Linked DNA regions of Homo sapiens. The protein of the gene in region 2 purifies or fractionates together with the protein of the main gene of each other region. This does not show direct contact. Each region holds a gene or a part of one and is shown on either strand. Other genes may lie near its edges. The genes, in order: HSPBP1 and HMCES.

Evidence for each region.
Region 1: the proteins of HMCES (region 2) and HSPBP1 purify together in Homo sapiens (affinity purification with mass spectrometry; 2 studies listed by BioGRID and IntAct, with this or other methods). This does not show direct contact.

The regions. Positions count from the first base shown.
Region 1 is NC_000019.10:55,262,066-55,272,203, reverse strand, and holds the end of HSPBP1 (hsp70-binding protein 1), read left to right. Parts: intron 1-5,917; coding exon 5,918-6,073; intron 6,074-6,221; coding exon 6,222-6,318; intron 6,319-6,814; coding exon 6,815-6,926; intron 6,927-9,521; coding exon 9,522-9,596; coding exon of another isoform or gene 9,597-9,834; 3' UTR 9,835-9,981; downstream 9,982-10,138. UniProt on the Homo sapiens protein: Inhibits HSPA1A chaperone activity by changing the conformation of the ATP-binding domain of HSPA1A and interfering with ATP binding. Interferes with ubiquitination mediated by STUB1 and inhibits chaperone-assisted degradation of immature CFTR.
Region 2 is NC_000003.12:129,274,273-129,284,478, reverse strand, and holds the start of HMCES (abasic site processing protein HMCES), read right to left. Parts: upstream 5,610-10,206; 5' UTR 5,574-5,609; intron 5,506-5,573; exon of another isoform or gene 5,268-5,505; intron 4,770-5,267; 5' UTR 4,747-4,769; coding exon 4,564-4,746; intron 1-4,563. Other genes in the region: COPG1 (coatomer subunit gamma-1), read right to left, coding at 7,055-7,185, 9,187-9,285, 9,503-9,641.

The DNA.
Region 1 (10,138 bases), on a different chromosome or scaffold from region 2:
CATAGCTGCGCAGGTGTTTTTATGGACATTTGTTTTCCGTTCTCTTGGGTGTATACCTAGCAGTGGAGTTGCTGGGTCATATCGTAACTCTACATTTAATCTGTTCGAGGTTGGCTTTTTTTTTTTTCTTTTTTTGTTTCTTGAGACGGAGTCTCGCTCTGTGGCCCAGGCTGGAGTGCAGTGGCGCAATCTCGGCTCACTGCAACCTCCACCTCCCAGGTTCAAGGGATTCCCCTGCCTCAGCCTCCCAAGTACCTGGGTTTACAGGCACATGCCACCATGCCCAGCTAATTTTTTTTGTACTTTTAGTACAGAGAGACGGGGTTTCACCCTGTTGGCCAGTCTGGTCTCAAACCCCCGACCTCAGGTGAGCACCTCAGCCTCCCTAAGTGCTGGGATTATAGGCATGAGCCACTGTGCCTGGCCTGAGGTTGGCTATTTTTTAATTCCAGCAGCCTATCTGGTCATTGAAATGGGGGCTGTGAGGGGGGTCCAACACCCTCTTTCTCTCCCTCACCCCCATGTATCCTGAGTCCTGGAATCAGTGTTGTGTTCCTGGCAGATGGTGGCCCCAGCCATGCAGAGGCTGGGAGGAGAACAGGGAGGGTTTGGGTAGGAGGAGATTCCGGAAGAAGGAAGCATTCTGATGAGGCAAGGAAAGGGGCACTTGGAAAGTCACAGCCAAAACTAGGGTGACAGGGACAGACAGACATGGGGCAGCTCGGCCACAAAGGGCAGAGAGAAGGACATGGTGTCCCGAGGGCCAGAGCAGGGTAGAGAGGGGCTGGCAGAGTTTTCTTCTAATAGCTTGCATTAAAAAAGAAGTCTTTAGGTCATCTTGGTGGTTCACACCTGGTCCCACCTACCTGGGAGGCTGAGGAGGGAGGATCATCTGAGCCTGGGAGGCAGAGGCTGCAGTCAGCTGAGATCGTGCCACTGCACTCCAGCCTGGGTGACAGAGTGAGACCCTGTCTAAAAAAAAAAAAAGTCATTACATATTTTTAAAAATCTGTGAGACAGTCACATCGTTCACCAGGTACAAAAGAGTACATAGCAAATGGTCCCTGTCCCCAAACCTGGTCCCCATTCCAGAGAAAACCACTGTTATACCTGTTTCTGCTTCCAGAGATTTTAATAAATCTGTAAGAACAAATGTGGGTGTGTGTGGTGTGTGTGTGATGTGTGTGTGTAGTGGGTGTGTGGCGCGTGTGTAGGGTGTGTATGGTGTGTATGTGGGGTGTTTGGCGTGTCGTGTGTTAGTGTAGCGTGTACATGGGTTGTGTGGTGTGTGGTATATATGTGGAGGTGTGTGTGGTGTGTGTGTTGCATGTGTATGTGTGTGGGATGTGTGTGCTGGGGGGATGTATGTATATGTGTGGGGTATGTGGGGTGCATATGAGGTGTGTATGTGTGGTGCGTATGTGTGGTGTGTGGATGTGCATGGCGTGTGTGGGATGTGTGGATGTGGTGTGTGTATACGGGGTGTGTGGTGTGTGCTTATGTGGAGTGTGTCGTGTGTGGTATGTGTGCACACAGACACACGGATTAATCTCGTTTCCTCAGATGTGCACGGCTGGCACAGGCCATCCTGACTGTGGCGCACCTTGACCTGCCTCTGTCCTTTTTTCTTAAGCAACAGTAGCTTATCTTTCCCCTTCCTGCGGGTGAGGAATGCAGCAGTGGCCCCTGCTGAGGAGGGCGGCTTCTGGCTTTGCGTCTTCATGAGGTTGCATGAGGTTGCATGAGGTTGTGGTCAGCCGTCAGCCGGGCCTCGTTCCCTGAAGGTCTCATTGCACTAAGCCCTGTGCGCTGCACCTCATTGATCCCTCACAATCCCCCTCTGAGGAAGGGGTGCTAGAGATGGGCTTCCACCATGGCTCGCCCCGGGGCTAGCAGAGTTTTGCTGGCAGTTGGCAGGAAGCTCGGGCTGCGTGAGCGGCCTCACCACGTGGTGGTCGGCTTCCCCAGCGAAAGTTGTGCACGATGCAGGGCAAGAGCTCTGGGAGCTTGGATGCCATTCTTTTTTTTGCTCGGGGGTAAAATTCACATGAAAATGTTAAAGTATACCATTCAGTGGCATCTGTCCTTTTTTTTGGTGGCTGCAGGGTATGCCATTGTGTGGCTGTCCAGTACCATTACTGGAGTTCCGTGCTGGGAGCCATTTGCAGGGTACGTCCCCTCAGCTCCTGCTGCCCGAGGCGGTGGTGCCACTGCCCTTCCCAGGACAGGAGGGGATGGACTCGCTCGCCCTCTGTGGAGCCACTCCAAAGTGGTTCCTTGTTACAGTCTACCAGAGTGGCACATTTATTACAATCGATGAACCTACATGGACACCTCATTGTCACCCAGAGTCCATAGTTGACACTGGGGCGCACTCTTGATGCTGTATGTACTATGGGTTTGGACAACTGTATCATGACATGGATCCATACTGTAGTATTCTACAGAGGAATCTCGCTGCCCTACAAATCCTCTGTGCTCCCGCTAGTCATCCCACCCCTGAGCTTTTTACTGTCTCCATAGTTTTGCCTTTTCCAGAATGTCATATGCTTGGAACCATGCAATCTGCAGCCTTTTCCGACTGGCTTCTTTGGCTTAGTAATCTGCTTTTAAGGTTCTTCCATGTCTTTTCTTGGCTTGATAGCTCATTTCTTTTTAGCGCTGAATAAGCGTAACTTTTTTAAGGGAGATGTGTGGGCTGCAGTGATGACTTTGGCTTTCTTTCCAAAAATGACGGCAGCCATACTGTGATCCCTGCCCCCAACTGCTGCACAGAGAAGAGGGTGAATGCGGCGAGGGTGGGTGGAAGGTGGGCGGTGAGCTGGGGGGTTATGGTGATAACCTAGGCAAGAGATCAAGGTTGTGGTAGGGAGCAGTGGTTCTCAAACAGGGACAATCGTGTCCTCCACAGGACATTTAGACAAATGTCTGGAGACATTTTTAGTTGTCGCAGCTGGGAGAGAGGGACTATTGGCATCTACTGGGTAGAGGCCAGGGATGCTGCTCAACATCCTGCAATGCACAGGACGGGCCTCCCAACCCAGAATGATCTGGCCCCAGATACCAACCGTGCCCAGGTGGAGAAACCCTGGCGTAAAGGGGACAGGTCTCTCCTGGGTACATTTTGAAGGTAGAGCTGACAGGCCTTGCTTACAGATTGAATGAGAGGAGTCTTTGTGTTTTCCAGTCCATGCATGCCTGTTCTTTTTTCTTTCTTTAATTAAATAACATCTGGCTGGGCGTGGTGACTCATGCCTATAATCTCAACATTTTGGGAGGCCGAGACAGGTGGATCACTTGAAGCCAGGAGCTCAAGACCAGCCTGGCCAACATGGTGACACCCTGTCTCTACTAAAAATACCAAAAAATTAGCCAGGCATGGTGGGGCATGCCTGTAATCTCGGCTACTCGGTAGGTTGAGGCATAAAAATTGCTTGAACCCGAGAGACGTATGTCGCAGTGAGCCAACTGCCACTGCACTCCAGCCTGGGCGACAGAGCGAGACTCTGTCTCAAAAATGAAATAAAATAAACTAAAATAAATAAATATGTAACCCAATATGTCCAAACTATTATAATTTCAATGTGTAATTAATATGGACTATTAATGAGACACTGTATTTTTTGTCATGCTAAGTCTTCAAAACCTAGTGTGTGCATTTTACAAATGAAGCACATCGCAACATGCTGAGTTTTCAGGGGTAGTGTGGAGTGCGCCAGAGCAACAACGTTGTGTGTGTTTTTCTTTTTTTGGTTTTCTTTTTGTGTGTGTGTGAGATGGAGTTTCGCTCTTTTTGCTCAGGCTGGAGTGTAATGGCGCAATCTCGGCTCACTGCAACCTCCACCTCCCGGGTTCAAATGATTCTCCTGCCTCAGCCTCCCTAGTAGCTGGGATTACAGACGCACGCCACCACGCCCAGCTAATTTTGTATTTTTAGTAGAGACGGGGTTTCACCATGTTGGTCAGGCTGGTCTCGAACTCCTGACCTCAAGTGATCTGCCCACCTCGGCCTCCCAAAGTGCTGGGATTACAGGCATGAGCCACCGCGCCCAGCCAACGTTGTGTTTAATGGAAAATATTTTACACTGCTTCAGTTTTTCACCTTAAGTTTAAATGAATGGAACTTAAATGAAATGAACAACTCTTTTCCTTAGTTGCACTGGCCACATATCAGGTGTTTAGTGGCCACAAGCTACTAGCAGCTTCTGTCCTTCTTGGCCAGCACAGGCCTAGAGCCTACCCAGGAGGGGGCACCTTACTGGAGGTGCACTCCAAAGGTCAGTTCTCATCCTGCTGGGAGTCCTTCCAGAGTTCTCATTGCCCTCTGGATAAAGGTCATGCATGCTGTGTAGCCTGGCTCTTTAGGCCTCAGTTTCCTCATCTGTAAAATAGAATTCTGAAAGCACACACTTCCAGGATAATTGTGAGGATTAAAAGATGTTGCGGACTGGGGACGGTGGCTCACGCCTGTAATCCCAGCACCTTGGGAGGCTGAGGCAGGTGGATTATGAGGTCTGGAGTTCAATACCAGCCTGGCCAACATGGCAAAACCCTGTCTCTACTCAAAATACAAAAATTAGCTGGGTGTAGTGGTGCATACCTGTAATCCCAGCTACTCGGGAGTCTGAGGCAGGAGAATAGCTTGAGCCTGGGAAGCAGAGGTTGCAGTGAGCCAAAATGGTGCCACTGCACTCTAGCCTGGATGATAGAGCAAGACTCTGTCTCAAAAAAAAAAAAAAGAGAGAGATGACACAGCCGGGCGCAATGGCTCATGCCTGTAATCCCAGCACTTTGGGAGGCCCAGGCAGGTGGATCACTTTAGGTCAGGAGCTTGAGACCAACCTGGCCAACATGGTGAAACCCTGTCTCTACTATATATACAAAAATTAGCCGGGTGTGGTGGCAGGTTACTATAATCCCAGCTACTTGGGGGGCTGAGGCTGAAGAATAGTTTGAACCTGCGAGCGGAGGTTACAGTGAGCCAAGATTGCTCCACTGCACACTCCAGCCTGGGCAACAGAACGAGAGTCCATCTCAAAATGAAATAAATAAGTAAATAAATAAAATAAAAAAATTAAAAAAGATGATGCTTCCATCAATGGAGGAATGGATAAAATATGGTATATCCATACAATGGAATGTTATTCAGCCATGAAAAAGAATGAAGTGCTGATACCACTTACGACATGAATGAACCTGGAAAACATCATGCTGAGTGAAAGCAGTCAGACACAAAAGGTCACGTATTTTATGGACACATTTATATTAAATGTCTGGGACAGGTAAATCCATAAAGGAAGAAAGTATATCTGTGGTTGCAGGGGCCAGAGGGAAGGGAAATTGGGAATGACTGCTCATAGGTTTCCTTTGGGGGGTGATGAAAATTTCCTAGAGTTAGTGGTGATGGTTATACAACCCTGTGAATATCTTTAAAAGGCTGAACTGTGTGGATTGTGAATTATATCTCAAAAGCATACTTCAAAAAAAGATAATGCTTGCATATGCAGGCCCATGGCAAGGGATGATAGTGGTTGGTGGTGATGATGGTGACGATGATTGACGATAATTATATTGTTAATGGTAGTGATGATGATGGCGGTGATGGTGATGTGGTGGTGATGGTGATAGTGATGGTGATAGTGATGGTGATGTTGGTGATGTCATGGTGATGATGGTGGTGGTGATGGTGGTGGTGGTGATGGTGATAGTGATGGTGGTGGTGGTGAGGATGGTGGTGATGGTGATGGTGGTGAGGATGAGAATGGTGATGATGATGATTGTGATGGTGGTGAAGATAGTGGTGATGGTGGTGATGATGATGTTGGTGATGGTGGTTGTGATGATGTTGGTGATGGTGCTTGTGATGACAGTGGTGGTGGTGGTGACTGCAAGCTCAGGACCTTTCCCCCTCTCCCAGGTCTGGTCCGAGAGCAGGAGGCTGGGCTGCTGCAGTTCCTCCGCCTGGACGGCTTCTCTGTGTTGATGAGGGCCATGCAGCAGCAGGTGCAGAAGCTCAAGGTCAAATCAGCATTCCTGCTGCAGAACCTGCTGGTGGGCCACCCTGAACACAAAGGTGTGGCAGCCCTTGAGTGAGGGCAGGAGTGGGGAGCAGACGCCCTGGGGTGGGTGCAGGTGTGGGAGAAGGGGAGGAACAGGCATCCCGGGGAGGGCATAGGAGATGGGTGGGGCTGCCCCTCTGACCCCTGCAGCCCTCCCCCCAGGGACCCTGTGCTCCATGGGGATGGTCCAGCAGCTGGTGGCCCTGGTGCGGACAGAGCACAGCCCCTTCCACGAGCACGTGCTTGGAGCCCTGTGCAGGTACTTTGGCTCCTTGAGAGGACGGGGCCTGGGGTGGGGGCCCCGTCCTCTCAAGGTGGGGGTGGCTCAGGAATCAGCCCGTAGGGACTCAGGAGTTGGGACCTTCCCGTAGAGAGGAAGGGTGTGGGGCCAGAAAGGAGCAGGAGTCAGGGAGCCTCAGTTTCCTCACCAGTAGGGCTGGCACAGAGGCCTTGCAGGAGGGAGAGAGGCTTCTGTACACGCCCCCACCAGTGGATTAGTGTCTAATCAGATGATGCTGGAGCTCTCAACAGCACACCAGAGTTGACACGCACCAGGCCCTGTGCTGAGCCCCTCAGCACCCACCCTGGGCCAGGGGCAGCGTGAGGTCCATTCCGCAGATGGGGAAATGGAGGCCCATTGTGGGGCAGCGACTTGCCAGGCTCCTGAGTGAGCCAGGGGACGGGGCGGGCGATAGGGTTGGGTCAGTGAGGCCTCTAGAGGGAGGTCCTAAGGGCCGCTGTCATGTCCCTCACAGCCTGGTGACAGACTTTCCGCAGGGTGTGCGCGAGTGTCGGGAGCCGGAACTGGGCCTGGAGGAGCTCCTCCGCCACCGCTGTCAGCTGCTGCAGCAGCATGAGGAGTACCAGGTACATGGGGAGGGGACGGGGTGCAAGGAGGACCAGGTGCAAGGGGGAGGGGACAAGGGCTCCAGGAGGACTAGGTGTGTGGGGAGGGGATGGGGTTCGAGGAGGATCAGGTGCCAGGGGGAGGGGACAGGGGCTCCAGGAGGACCAGGTACACGGGGAGGTGACGGGGTGCAAGGAGGACTAGGTGTGAGGGGCAGGGGATGGGGTTCGAGGAGGATCGTGTGCCGGGGGAGGGGACAGCGGCTCCAGAAGGACCAGGTGAGTTGGGGAAGGGACAGGGTGTGAGGAGGACCAGGTGTGAGGGGGAGGGGCCTGGGGGGTGAGGAATTCCCCAGGTTAGACCAAGTGTGGTAGTGGGGACCCTAGTAGGGGCAGAGCCAGCCAGTCCTTGCCCTTGGGGGCTCCTGGGTCCGCTGGTTCAGGCTTTCATTCGTGTTCTCGTGCATTTCACTTATCTTCCATTCAGCAGATGTTTATTTCATGCCTAGCATTCGTCCCGTGCTGTGTCAGAGTAGGAGAGACAGCAAGGAGACAGGAGCTTGGAGATTCTTAAAGTGTTGCCCAATCATTGAATTATTATCTAAATTACCCAATACAGTTGTTTTACATTAAGTAAATGTAAATTGAATATAATATCACTCAAATGTCTTAATGATTTAACTATTTCATTAAATTGACAAGAAATAACAAATGGCAAAAAATAACCAATTATTTTGGGTAAATAACAAGTGATAAATAACAAGTCATCAGATATTTAATTAGATAAGGGGCAAATAAATAACTCATTAGATAACTAGATAAGTAACAAATGCTAAATCACAACTAATTAAAATTCAAATAGTTAACTGATTAAGTAATGCATTAATTTGTTGAAGTGAATGAATCAATGCTGGTGCTTCAGCAAAGCCGAGCTTAGCAAACGCACCCACCTCCTTGGGACGTTATATTCTATTAGATTCATTCCTGTGTAGACACTGTCAAGTGTCTGTATGTATTGAAAGTGTACTACATGGCCAGGCATGGTGGCTCACGCCTGTAATCCCAGCACTTTGGGAGGCCGAGGCAGGCAAATCATGAGGTCAGGAGTTCGAGACCAGCCTGGCCAACATGGTAAAACCCCATCTCTACTAAAAATACAAAAAATTAGCTGGGCATAGTGGCAGGTGCTTGTAATCCCAGCTACCCAGGAGGCTGAGGCAGGAGAATCGCTTGAACCGGGGAGGCGGAGGTTGCAGTGAGCCAAGATGCGCCACTGCACTCCAGCCTGGGCGACAGAGTGAGACTCCATCTCAAAAAAAAAAAAAAAAAAAGTGTACTACATGAGAAGTTTTGACTTATGTATACACCCGTGGAAACATTCAAATTAGATTTGTAACAGATTTTACTAATGCTTTGTGAATAGGTTCCGTAGTCACATGGTTGAAAATACAAGACCCGCAGGAGGGTAAACAGTGAAAAGTCTCTCTCCTGCCCCTCCTTCTGGCTACCCAGTTGCTCAGGTGTCCTTCTTAAAATATTAGGTACACACGAGCAAAGGTGCATGTGAATTCTCCTTTTTCTCTATGTTATGCAAAATAAGCCTGCCGTGCTGTGATGGCTGTTCTGCCCCTTGCTTTGTGGGCATTGCATGTCTCGCCTGTGGCTCTTTCATTTTGCAGCTGTACAGTGCGGATGGGCTCTTTTTTGTAGCATGGATATGCAGGTTGTTTCTACACTCTCGCTATGACAAACACTGCTGAAAGAATAACCTTTTGTATATGTTATTACATATGTCTGTAGAACAATTTCTAGAAGGGAAATGGCTGGGGTCAGGTATGTTAAAGGTGAAGGTTAAAGGGTTAAGGGCCGTTTCATTAGCTATCACCAAGCTGCTCTCCATAGAAGTTCAACCATTGACACTCCAGTCATGAGGGTGCCCAACTCCCCAAATCTTGGTCAGGACAAAGTGGCCTCGATGAACCATTTGACCTTTTTTCAAACTGATTGTTGAAAAGTAGTACTCCAGTCCAGTTTACATTTCTCCCATGAGTGAAATTTGGCATCTTTTCTCTTTCTTGTGAACTGTTCGTTCTCATCCTTTGCCCACTTATCTATTTATTGGGTGATGGTTTTTGCGAATGACTTTTTTAAGCTCTTTAAGAGTTAAGTATATTAGCCATTTGTGCTATGAATCACAAATATTTTTCTCCAACCTCGTTTTCTTTTTCTTTTTTTGCCATGGGAGTATTTTTTATATTACGTAGTTTAACCTCTCAGTGCTTTCTTTCATGGTTTCTGGGGTTTGTATCCGCAGAAAGTTTTGAGCAGTGGTCCATATCTGGGAGTTAGAAAGAGCCCAAGAGTGCTGATATGAGGCAGACCAATGGAGTGAGACGAGTCTGGGGGACCCCGGGTTCTAGTTCAAGTAGTTCAGACACCAGTGTGAAGACAGTGAATCATGGATCTGAGCAGTGATTAAAAAAGCCTAACCTCTGGTGGGGGGGAGTGGGTGGTGGCCAGGAGAGAAGAGGAGTCACCTCTGGGTGCCAAGAATGCTGGAGGCAGGGTCCGGCCTCTGCACTCAGGCCCCTTGCTCCCTGCCCCTGCCCAATCCAGGAGGAGCTGGAGTTCTGTGAAAAGCTGCTACAGACCTGTTTCTCCAGCCCAGCGGACGACAGCATGGATCGGTGAAACCAGGTGGCTTCTTGCCCCCTTCTCCGTGGGAACCCCAGGCCTCTTGCCTCCCTCCCCACCTACAAGGCCCTCTCCCAAGGGATCGCAGGGCCTAGGTGCCTGGACCCAGGGTGTGCCAGCCCGTCTCTGTGCAGTCCCTGGAAGGGGCGCTGAGAAAGGCACCAGCTCCTTGGACCCCACCTCCCATGCTCTCACTCTCATCCCCGTTCTCTTGTCCACACAGCTCTTCCAATAAAGGTGTTTCTCTTCCTCCTTCTCCTCCTTCACTGCCGCCTTTGTCATCTCCTTTGGAGGGTGCATGGGGGACGGGAGGAGGGGCACGGGTTTAAGGGACTTGGGGAGCCACTGGAAGAATAATAAAAGTGTTGCTCTTTATCATCTATAGAGCCATTGTGTCATTTACTCTTCCCTGTCTTTCCTGAGCAACAGTGTGTGGGACATCTGTCCTTTTTTCGGCCACCTGGCAAACCTGAATTCTAGGTTTGAGGAATTTCCCAGGTTAGACATCTAAATTTTCCCTAGGGTAGCCGCCATTTCCC
Region 2 (10,206 bases):
TTCATCAACTGATCAATATATGACCTTGTTTTATGTGTGTTTCTGTTTAAAGACATCTAATTTAAACTTACTCTTAATTCATTTACACTAAATTCAAGACCAAGAGCACTATAACTCATGCCTGACTAAAGCTTATCCAATGTATATATCTTCTTTTTAAGACATATCACAGCCTTCTTTAGCTTGGGAATACCAGCCAGCACTTTAGTGCTATGCTTGGGATCATTTTAAACAGTGAAATCACACATGGCACTAAACTGGCTGCAAAAAAGATACTTGTTTATAACGTAAGAGATGAAACAAGAAGGCAGAGCTCTGCCTCGATCAACCTCAGCTGGAAACATCAAGGTACTCAAATTTGTCAGCTCTCTGTATGTGCACCAATGATTGCAAAAGCAAAGTGAGTATGAATTTAGGGGTTACAAATAAATTTTAGTGAGTAGGTGAATTTGGAAATATGGAATCTAAGAATAATGAGGACTGTTTGTGTGTGTTTGTGAGAAAGAACAGTTGAAAACAGAGATTTCATAAATCCTCTTTCTCTTCCAGAATCAAATTTGCCTTCTGGCAGCTCAAGCCTATAATCCTGGCACTCTGGTAGGCCAAGTGGGGAGGATCCCTTGAGCTCAAGGTTGATTTTTCTTTTTTGAGACAGAGTTTCGCTCTTGTTGCCCAGGCTGGAGTGCAATGGCGCGATCTTGGCTCACTGCAACCTCCGCCTCCCACGTTCAAGCGATTCTCCTGCCTCAGCCTCCCAGGTAGCTGGGATTACAGGCATGCACCACCACACCCGACTAATTTTGTATTTTTAGTAGAGACAGGGTTTCACCATGTTGGTCAGGCTGGTCTACAACTCCCGACTGCAAGCGATCCACCTGCCTCAGCCTCCCAAAGTAATGAGATTACAGGTGTGAGCCTCTGCACCTGGCCTGAGCTCAAGAGTCTTGAGACCAGTTTGAGCAACACAGTGAGAACTTCCCCCTCAAAATGTCAAAAGGAAAAGCCTGTGATCCCAGCTGCTGGGGAGGTTGAGGCAGCAGGATCGCTTGAGCCTGGGAGGTCAAGGTTGTAGTGAGCCATGATTGCGCCACTGCACTCCAGCCTGGGCAACACAGCAAGTCCCTGTCTCCAAAAAAAAAAAAAAGTCTTCCAAGCAGAAGGACCCCCAGCTCAGTGCATAAATGAGAATGAGACAACATTACGCAATGGTCAACTAAATGATCTTTCATCAGAAATTTGCAAGACAACAATACTGAAAAAATCTGTGGTTCTCAGTACGGGACAATTCTGACACACCCCTCCCCACCATCCAGAGACTTCTGGCAGTATCTGGAGATACCTTTGGTTGCTCTGATCTGGGGGATGCTATTGTGGAGGATGCTACTGACATCTAGCTGGTAGAGGATGTTGCTAAACGCTCTACAACGCCCAGAATAGCTCCCTATGACAAAAAATTATCCTGGCCAAAACTGTCAACAGTGTCAAGGTTGAGAATTCTGCTCTCACAAATTCCACTGATCAGCGCTGAGAGTGTACCCTTGACAACTGTAAACCAAATCCAAATGTGAGAATGACGAATAGAAAGTAGTTGAAAAGCCAAAATACTAAGACCATTGCTCAATATTAGTCATCTTTCCTCTACCCTTTTGGACTTCTGAACAGAACACCTGGTAGCACTGGGGTGGATAAATGAAACAGGAAGTAATTTGCAAATCTGTGGTTTCAAATGAAAATGTTGCTATCTATATACATATGCAGGCTGTTAATGATTTGAATGAACTGCTAAAATGGTTCTAATTTTGCTTTATAATTTATAGGTCTGAGAAAAATGAGATATCAAATATTATCAAAATTAAGAAACCATAGCAATCTTAATAAAACTTGTTAGAGATGTGAAATCAAATACTATATCAGCAAATTCATACCACTGGCCCAAATGAGGGCTGTATTTGCTAGTGGCTCCACCTTCCCCATTCCTGGTTCCAGGATGCATCCACTGGAGTGGGGACGGTGGTCTGGATCTCAGTTCTAGTTCTGTCCCTCACTGATTAGGTAACCTAGGACAAGTCATAATCTATGTATACTTCTATCTTTACATCTGTTAGACAAATTTTTCTTCCAGCTAACTTTCTATAATTCTAAGGAGGTCATATAAATGACTAAGGCTTTTTTTTTTTTTTTTTGTTAAAAACAGGGTCTCATTTGCTCAGGCTGGTGTCCTGAAATCCTGGCCTGAAGCAATTCTCTGGCCTCAGCCTCCCCCAAAGTGCTAGAATTACAGGCGTGAGCCACCAGGCCTGGCCAGGCTCATACACTTAATCCTGCTCTCTATTCTCACTCTAAGTTATGCTTTCCTTTGAAATATGTTTTATGCTCTCTTTTCCCCTTCAAGGTTCTCCAGAATATTTTATTTTGATTCCCCTCTCATTTAAAACAAAAAGTTTCAATAGGGAAGTATGCATCCTCTAAAAATGACACAAAAATAACTATGTCATATAAATGGCTTCATTCAACCAAGAACATTATTTGATTTTTTTTTTTTTTTTTTTTTTGAGACTGAGTCTTGCTCTGTCACCCAGGCTGGAGTGCAGTGGCACATTCTCGACTCACTGCAACCTCCACATTTTTTTTTTTTATAGTACAGACAGAGTTTCATCATGTTGGCCAGACTGATCTCAAACTCGTGACCTCAAGAGATCCCACTGCCCCGCCTCAGCCTCCCAAAGTGCTGAGATTACAGGCGTGAGCCACCGTGCCCAGCCATTATTTGTTATCTTTATTTCTTTTTGAGATGGAGTCTCACTCTGTTGCCCAGGCCAGAGTACAGTGGCACAATCTTGGCTCACCCCAACCTTCGCCTCCCGGGTTCAAGCGATTCTCCTGCCTCAGCCTCCCAAGTAGCTGAGATTACAGGCGCCCGCCATCACACCCAGCTAATTTTTGTATTTGCAGTAGAGACGGGGTTTCACCATGTTGGCCAGGCTGGTCTCGAACTCCTGACCTCAGGTGGTCCAGCCGTCTTGGCCTCCCAAAGTGCTAGGATTACAGGTGTGAGCCACCATGCCCAGCCTGTTATCTTTATTTCAAAATGATGTGATTCCCTATAATGCAGAAATGAGTCCTTTTTGACTATCATATTATCACAAAAGTTTAAAGAGTATGTACCAGAGGTATAATCAACTTTATAAAGTGATTTCAGCATTATGAATCAAATACAGTCAAAATTCAGGAAGGAAACAATCACAATTTTTTTTTTTTGAGATGGAGTCTCGCTCTGCCGCCAGGCTGGAGTGCAGTGGTGCAATCTCAGCTCACTGCAACCTCCACCTCCCAGGTTCAAGTGATTCTCCTGCCTCAGCCTCCCAAGTAACTGGGACTACAGGTGCGTGCCACCATACTCAGCTAATTTTTGTATTTTTAGTAGAGATAGGGTTTCACCATGTTGGCCAGGATGGTCTCGATCTCTTGACCTCGTGATCCGCCCGCCTCCACCTCCCAAAGTGCTAGGATTACAGGCGTGGGCCACCGTGCCCAGCCAACAATCACGATTTTTAAAAACATGTCAAGGTCATTTAAAATATTTAAGACATGGAGAAACTATTACTTTCTAGAACGAAGCATTTTTATTACACACACATACAAAGACACACACACTTTCAGGAGATAAGGCAAAAAACTAAAATATGAATGTAAGTGACTGGTAATTCCAACACTACAGGGATAAATACTATAAACACAATGAATGCAATTAAACTTCAGATAACCAAACCAAATACGTGTTTCTAGCCTTAGTAAAAGACAAACACAAAAAGATTGAAAACACAAGCAGAAAGAATAAAACTTTTCAATGCTCAAGAAACATCAGAAGTGTTTTAAATTAACTGATCTTAAGCCTGTCCTAGGCCTAGAGAAGTCTGATTAAGCTGGCCTGGTAAAGGGCATAGAAATATTCTTAAATTTTTTATTTTTTTAAATTTTTTCTTTAGGCAGGGTCTTGATCTGTCACCCAGGTGGGAGTGCAGTGGTACAACCATGGCTCATGAAGCCTCGACCTCCCCAGCTCAAGTGATCTTCCCACCTCATTTTTTTATTTTTTGTAGAGATGGGGTCTCCCTATGTTGCCCAGGCTGGTCTCCAACTCCTAGGCTCAAGTGATCCTCCCACCTCGGCTTCCCAAAGTGCTGGGGTTACAGGCATGAGCCATGGCACCTGGCCTTAAATTTTTTTATTATATTTTTAAGATACTCCAATGACCCTGATGATCAGTGAAAGCTGCTATTTTAAAACACAAAGCTCATATAAATTTGGCATATATTAAGGCTAGTATGCCATGTATAGCAAAGGCATTTAAATTGAGCCTGAAAAATACGTCTTTATCAGTGTTAGAAGCCACTGATAAAACTTCTTTCATGAGGCCAAGAGAGGTTCTCAACTGGAAGTCAGAATATATCAGTAAAGGCTGGTTTTTAATGTCATCCCAAGAGGCTGAGCACACACCAAACCAAATAGGAGATGACCATCACGAGGCTGGGCGAGGGGCTAGCATAGTGCAATGCTGGTTACCTTCTCAAAGTGCAGTCGAGACAGAAGCACTGGGCTGTTGGATTGAGGACTCTTGTTGTAAGAGGGGCAGTACTTATCAGGGTCCCTCCACTCCGGGAGCCGCTGCTGGCCCCGCCGATCCTGGTAGGCGCAAGCTCTCGTGAGAACATCTCTAGGTAAGTGACAGGATGTTCGCCCACACATTCTTCAACACCGCCCCTCGCAACCTTTAAATTACAAAACGTAAGGAAAAGGCTTACGTATCTCAAATATTAGGTCTTATTCCTTGAGTCCCCGCCTTCTCTTTCCGTTCCCACAGGGCCGTGCCCCTCCGTGACCACCGTCTAAAGTCTTCCCCAAAAAGTCCCACAAAGACAAGGATGTGCCCGTTTGCTTCGCTCCCTGAGCCCACTGCCCAGCTCCGTGCAGGGCACTGAGGCAAGTCCCGAGAGGAGCTCTGCAAATGCCTGCCTGAGCGCAGGAAGAGCCGCAGCGGAGGGGGCTTCACAGTCCAGCGAAGCAGGGCAAGCGCAGCTAGCTGGGGTCGCCTCCTCCGGGTGACTTGGTGCCCCCAACTCCCCGTCCTTCCCCCCAGTCCCCGCTGGGGTCAGCGACCCACGCCGGCCAGCAACCGGTCACCTCGAGGGCGGCCACTGGACGGCCCGGGGCCGGGGTGCAGAATCCCCGCCTCCCGCCCGCTAGTCCGCAGCGTCCCCGGGCCCGACCTGCGAACCTGTGGGCCGCGGATCCCGCTCCGGACTCTGCTCCCCGGAGCGGGGGCCGGTGCTCGGGGAGCAGGTGGCCCCCAGCCACCGGCCGCGATCCCTCGCCCCTCCCCGCGTCGCCTCCGCTCCGCTCCGGCCCTCAGACTCCGCCGCCCCGCGTCGCCTCACTTCGGCCCAGGCCGCCCTCTCCGCGTCGCCTCGCGTCCGCTCGGGCCTCTGCTCCCCTCTGTCAGCTCGCGTCGCTTCCTTTCCCCTCCCCTCCCCTCGCCATACCCCGACCGCCCGCGTCGCCTCCCCTCCCCTCACCTCGCCCCGGCAGCGCGCGTCACCTCCCTCGACTCTCCTCACCCCCGCTCCGCTCCGCTTTGGCCACCCGCGTCACCGCCCCTCACGTCAGCCCCGCCTCAGCCCGCGCTCCCGGCGCCAGGCCCCGCCCCCAAGGGCCCTTGGTTCCCGCGGTGCCCTCGGGCCCCGGAGGCGGCGTCTTCTCCCCTCCGGTTTGGGATGAATTTTCTCCCGTTTCCCCAGGAGACAGTGACTGCCTTGGGAGACATATCGATCCCAAGCTTCTCGGGACTCCACTTTCCTCCATATTGGCCGTTCCCTGGCGGGGTTAACCTTCCTCCCCGCCCCCAGCGTGTTTCAGGGCTGGCAGGGAAGGTTCCCGCCGCGCTGAGTCTAGGGCACAGGGTCATGGAAGGCGGGAAACCAGGAAACTCCACTCCTTACTTCACAGTCCTGCCAGCTGCCTCACAGTGCGAGGCAAAAATGGAGGAACACTGAAGAAATGAAAGTCAGAAGAACTTCCAGGAATCGCGCACTTCGCCCTCAAACATTGGTGGGCACTAGAATAAGCCTTTCCTGCCCCAGCCCCTCAGCTGAATCTCTAAGGGTGAGGCCCAGATTTTTAAAACAGCCCTTTCGGGTGTACTTTGGCCTCAAAGTTGGTAAAATAGCCTGGCTTGAGTTTAAAAGCCTGCTCCCCTTGGGACCTAAACCGGAGATTCTTCATCTGCAACCAACAGAGAATGCTCTAGAGGGCTGTTCGCCTATGCTGATTCGCTGAACTGAACAGGGAGCAGAAACCCCAGGGCACACTCCATGTAAGACCAGATGCTGGAACGATCAGACACAGGACCCAAGCCCTTTGGAGCCTCCATTTATCGACTATCAAAGGAGGATGCGTTGTGAAGAAGCACGAACGGGAGGGAGTGTGAACTCTGCCTGTTAGCTGATTCACTCAACCACCCTCTACCGCTCCCACCCCTGGGCTTGGTGCTGGGACAGCGATGACGGGGAGAGGGTCCTGCCTCACAGGACTACAACAGCCAAAGGGCTGTGGGTGCAAGGGGGACAGGGCAGGTGTTCTGCCTCTTTAGGGGAGGCCTTGAAGGGGAAGGTGGAGCCCTGAAGCATGAGTCTGCAGAAGTAGCAATCATTCAATAAATACATGCTGATTTATTACAGGGATAAGATGGTTTCTTGGGGGATAGATTCAAGAGGAGTTGAGAATGTTTTATTCATTTACAATGTCCCTTTCCTGGAAGGGTGGACAGCAAGATTTAGGACAAGCTAAAATCATCCCCTATTTAAAAAAAAAAAAAAAAAAAGTCACCAGCAAGTAGTCCCGGGTGGGAGGTGGGAGCAGAATAAAAAAAAATCTGCAATGATTCCTAATTGTTTTTCAATACAGAAGCTTGGGAAGGGGTTTCTGCCAGTTTCATGAGGAAGGCACAACTTCCAGGTAGTGTTGGGGAAGGGTATGAGGTCCTATGCAGGCTGGCCTCTTATCCCACAGATGCCAAGATGATGTCTACTGGCAGCTCCTCCAAACTTCTGGCTGTCACCTGCATTGTCACTGTGTCCAAAAGCAGCAGCCGGGAGCGCACCAGGATGTCATGACCACCCCGGAACACACCTAGAAGGGAAGAGAGAAGTACAGATATATACAGCAGAAGGGACTGTACAGGGCAGGCTAAGGATGGCATTTGCAGCAACCCATGAAGGCAGCTCTGGTGTAGTGAAACGGGCAGGAGAGCTGGGCTGAAATCCCTGAGTGAGGGATTTCACTGTGAAAGTCACTGTCTCTCAGCCAGGCGCGGTGGCTCACGCTTGTAATTCCAGCACTTTGGGAGGCTGAGGTGGGCAGATCATGAGGTCAGGAATTCGAGACCAGCCTGGCCAACACAGTGAAACCCCATCTCTACTAAAAATACGAAAATTAGCTGGGCATGGTGGTGGACGCCTGTAATCCCAGCTACTCGGGAGGCTGAAGCAGGAGAATCGCTTGAACCCGGGAGGCGGAGGTTGCAGCGAGCAGAGATTGTGCCACTGCATGCCAGCCTGGGTGACAGAGCTAGACTCCGTCTCAAAAAAAAAAAAAAAAAAGAAAGTCACTGTCTCTCAGGACTTCAGTATCCTCAACTACAAAGTGGCAGGGATGATAATACCATATTTCAGGCTTCTGCTAAGTTCAAATGAACTGATGGACATAAAAGGCTTATATCTCATGTCACAGAGGCTCTTGCACGTTGACTGAATCTGAGAGCACAAATGAAGGGGACAGCCCCACCACGAGAAAACCACAGGGCAGGTGTCTGCAAGACCCAGGGGACTAGGTTGTTTCAATGTGGCTACAAACTGTCAGCTGTAGGCAGGGTACTGAAGCAGAGCCTCCTTTCAACCCTGTTTATAAACACTCAGCCAAAAAAAATCATCCCATTTCCTTTTGTTAACTGTTTTAGGTATGATAATTGTATTGTCCTTTAAAAAAGGGAAGGGGTCATTCTCTCTTAGAGAAACATACAGATACAGGATTTACATATAAAATGCTATTTCTGGAGTTTGCTAGTAAATAATCTGGGAAGGAGAATGAGTGTGGGTACACTCAGCCAACCCTGTAGAAAATAAGACAAAGGATATGAAGACAATGATCAGAAAAGGAAATACAAATGCCTCAACATTTAAGAAGATACTTAACTTCATTGAAAATACAAAAACTACACTAAGATATCATTGTCCACACAGACTGGAAAAGATCATAAAGTGTGGTAACATATTATGTTGTCCACAGTGTAGGAAGAAAGGTATACAATTCTATGGAAGGCAACTTGGAGTTATTTATCAAGATGAGAAACACAAATCACTTTGAACTGGTGATGCCTTGGAAAATTTATCCTACAGATATTCTCAGTGTACACATGCAAAGTAAACTGTGTGTGTGTGTGTGTGTGTGTGTGTACACGATTATTTACTGTAACATCTGTAATAGCAAGAGATTGAAATCAAACTAAATGTTCATCAGTAGTGGCTGTTCCATAGAATATGTGGTGCATCCACACAATGGAATACTAAGCAACTATAAAAAAAATGAGGATTCAGTTTGGGATGAAAAAAGTTCTGGAGATGGATGGTGGTCATAGTTTTACAATAGTGTGAATGTACTTAATGCCGCTGAACCATACACTTGAAAATGGTCGAAATGGTGAATTTTATGTATATTTTACCACAATTAAAAGAAAAAGAATGAGGAAGCTCTACATATTGACGGGGAAGATCTCTAAGATGCAATGTAAAGTGAAAAGCAAATCGGAGGACAATATATATACCATTTGTACATAAACATTTGAGTTAAAAAAAGGAAATGCGTTCCTATTAGCTTTTATAGCCATAAAATAACCGCAAGGTTATACAAGTATTGTTTGTAATAGTAACACTGGTCGCTTCTCGGAAGGGAATCTGAATGGCTGGCAGCCAAGGTAGGGAGGAAACATTTCGCTGCAGATTATTTTATACTTTGTGAATTTTAAATGCTGTGAATTTTGACTCCCCATATTTACAGTGGAGTCCTTAGCCCAGGATCCAGTGGCATCCAGGCTGTAAGCTATCCAGGCCCTCCCCATCTAGAAATGCCACTTACCAGCCAGGAGCAACGTGTGGGTGTTCTTGTTATCCGGCACTTTGTCTGACCTCTCACAAGGGTGCATTCCCAAGAACTTCACAATATTACCCACAGCCTCTGTAATGAGAAATCCCAATATTGTTAAGCCATCTTATCTGCCCTTTGTGCCACCACCACTCCCCCATGTTCTGAAGGGCTTTTAATGAAGTGGCATTTGACATATGTGCTCCAGACATGGCCCTGGATCCTTGGAGAGAAAAGGGATGAGCACTTCAATAGTAGCCAAAGATCTTGAACAGTAATTAGGCCAGAGATGGCATTCCCAGGATTTTACCTTCAAGTGTCTTGATGGTAGACAAGGTGAACGTTTCCTCCTTCTCAAATTCATCCCCTACCTCATCCCAGGCTGCTTCGAAGTTCAGTTTCATGACCTTTTGAATGTGATCAGCTACAGTAACTTCCAGATCTTCCAGCTGGAGAGATGGAGGTAGAAATCAGGCACCCATCTACACACCTACGGGCCTCTGCTCTGAACTCATCCACACATCCCTTCCTGCAACTCTTTCCACAGGTGCTTGCTCGGCACTGAGGACTGTGCTAGACTCTGGGGACATAGAGCAACTTGACCAGGTACCTATCCTTGAGGTGCCCAAAGGCAAATGGTATCCCTTCAACAGAAAACGCCCTAATCCCAAGTACCAATCTACTAATTCAGCCTAGAGCCGCCTGCTGTGAGATCACATCTCTTCTAAGCCTGCCTAGTGTCAGTGCTTCCAGGACCTGGCATGCAGGGAATTACATAGCATTCTCAGAGGTCTGCTTCCTATGCCTGTCCCTCCTAGGGGATGATGAGCTCTTCAGGACCAGCAGCTGTTTCTAGTTCAGCAGAAACTAGCAGAAACCTCCTACCCCAGCTGTGTCCTCTGGATTTGACAGATCCTGAATCTCTATCTCCATTTCAGCTGTGTCTTCCCTGAACTTGACACATAATACTCCCACTGAGTCTACATGAAGGTTCCCCATTCATTCTCCCATCAG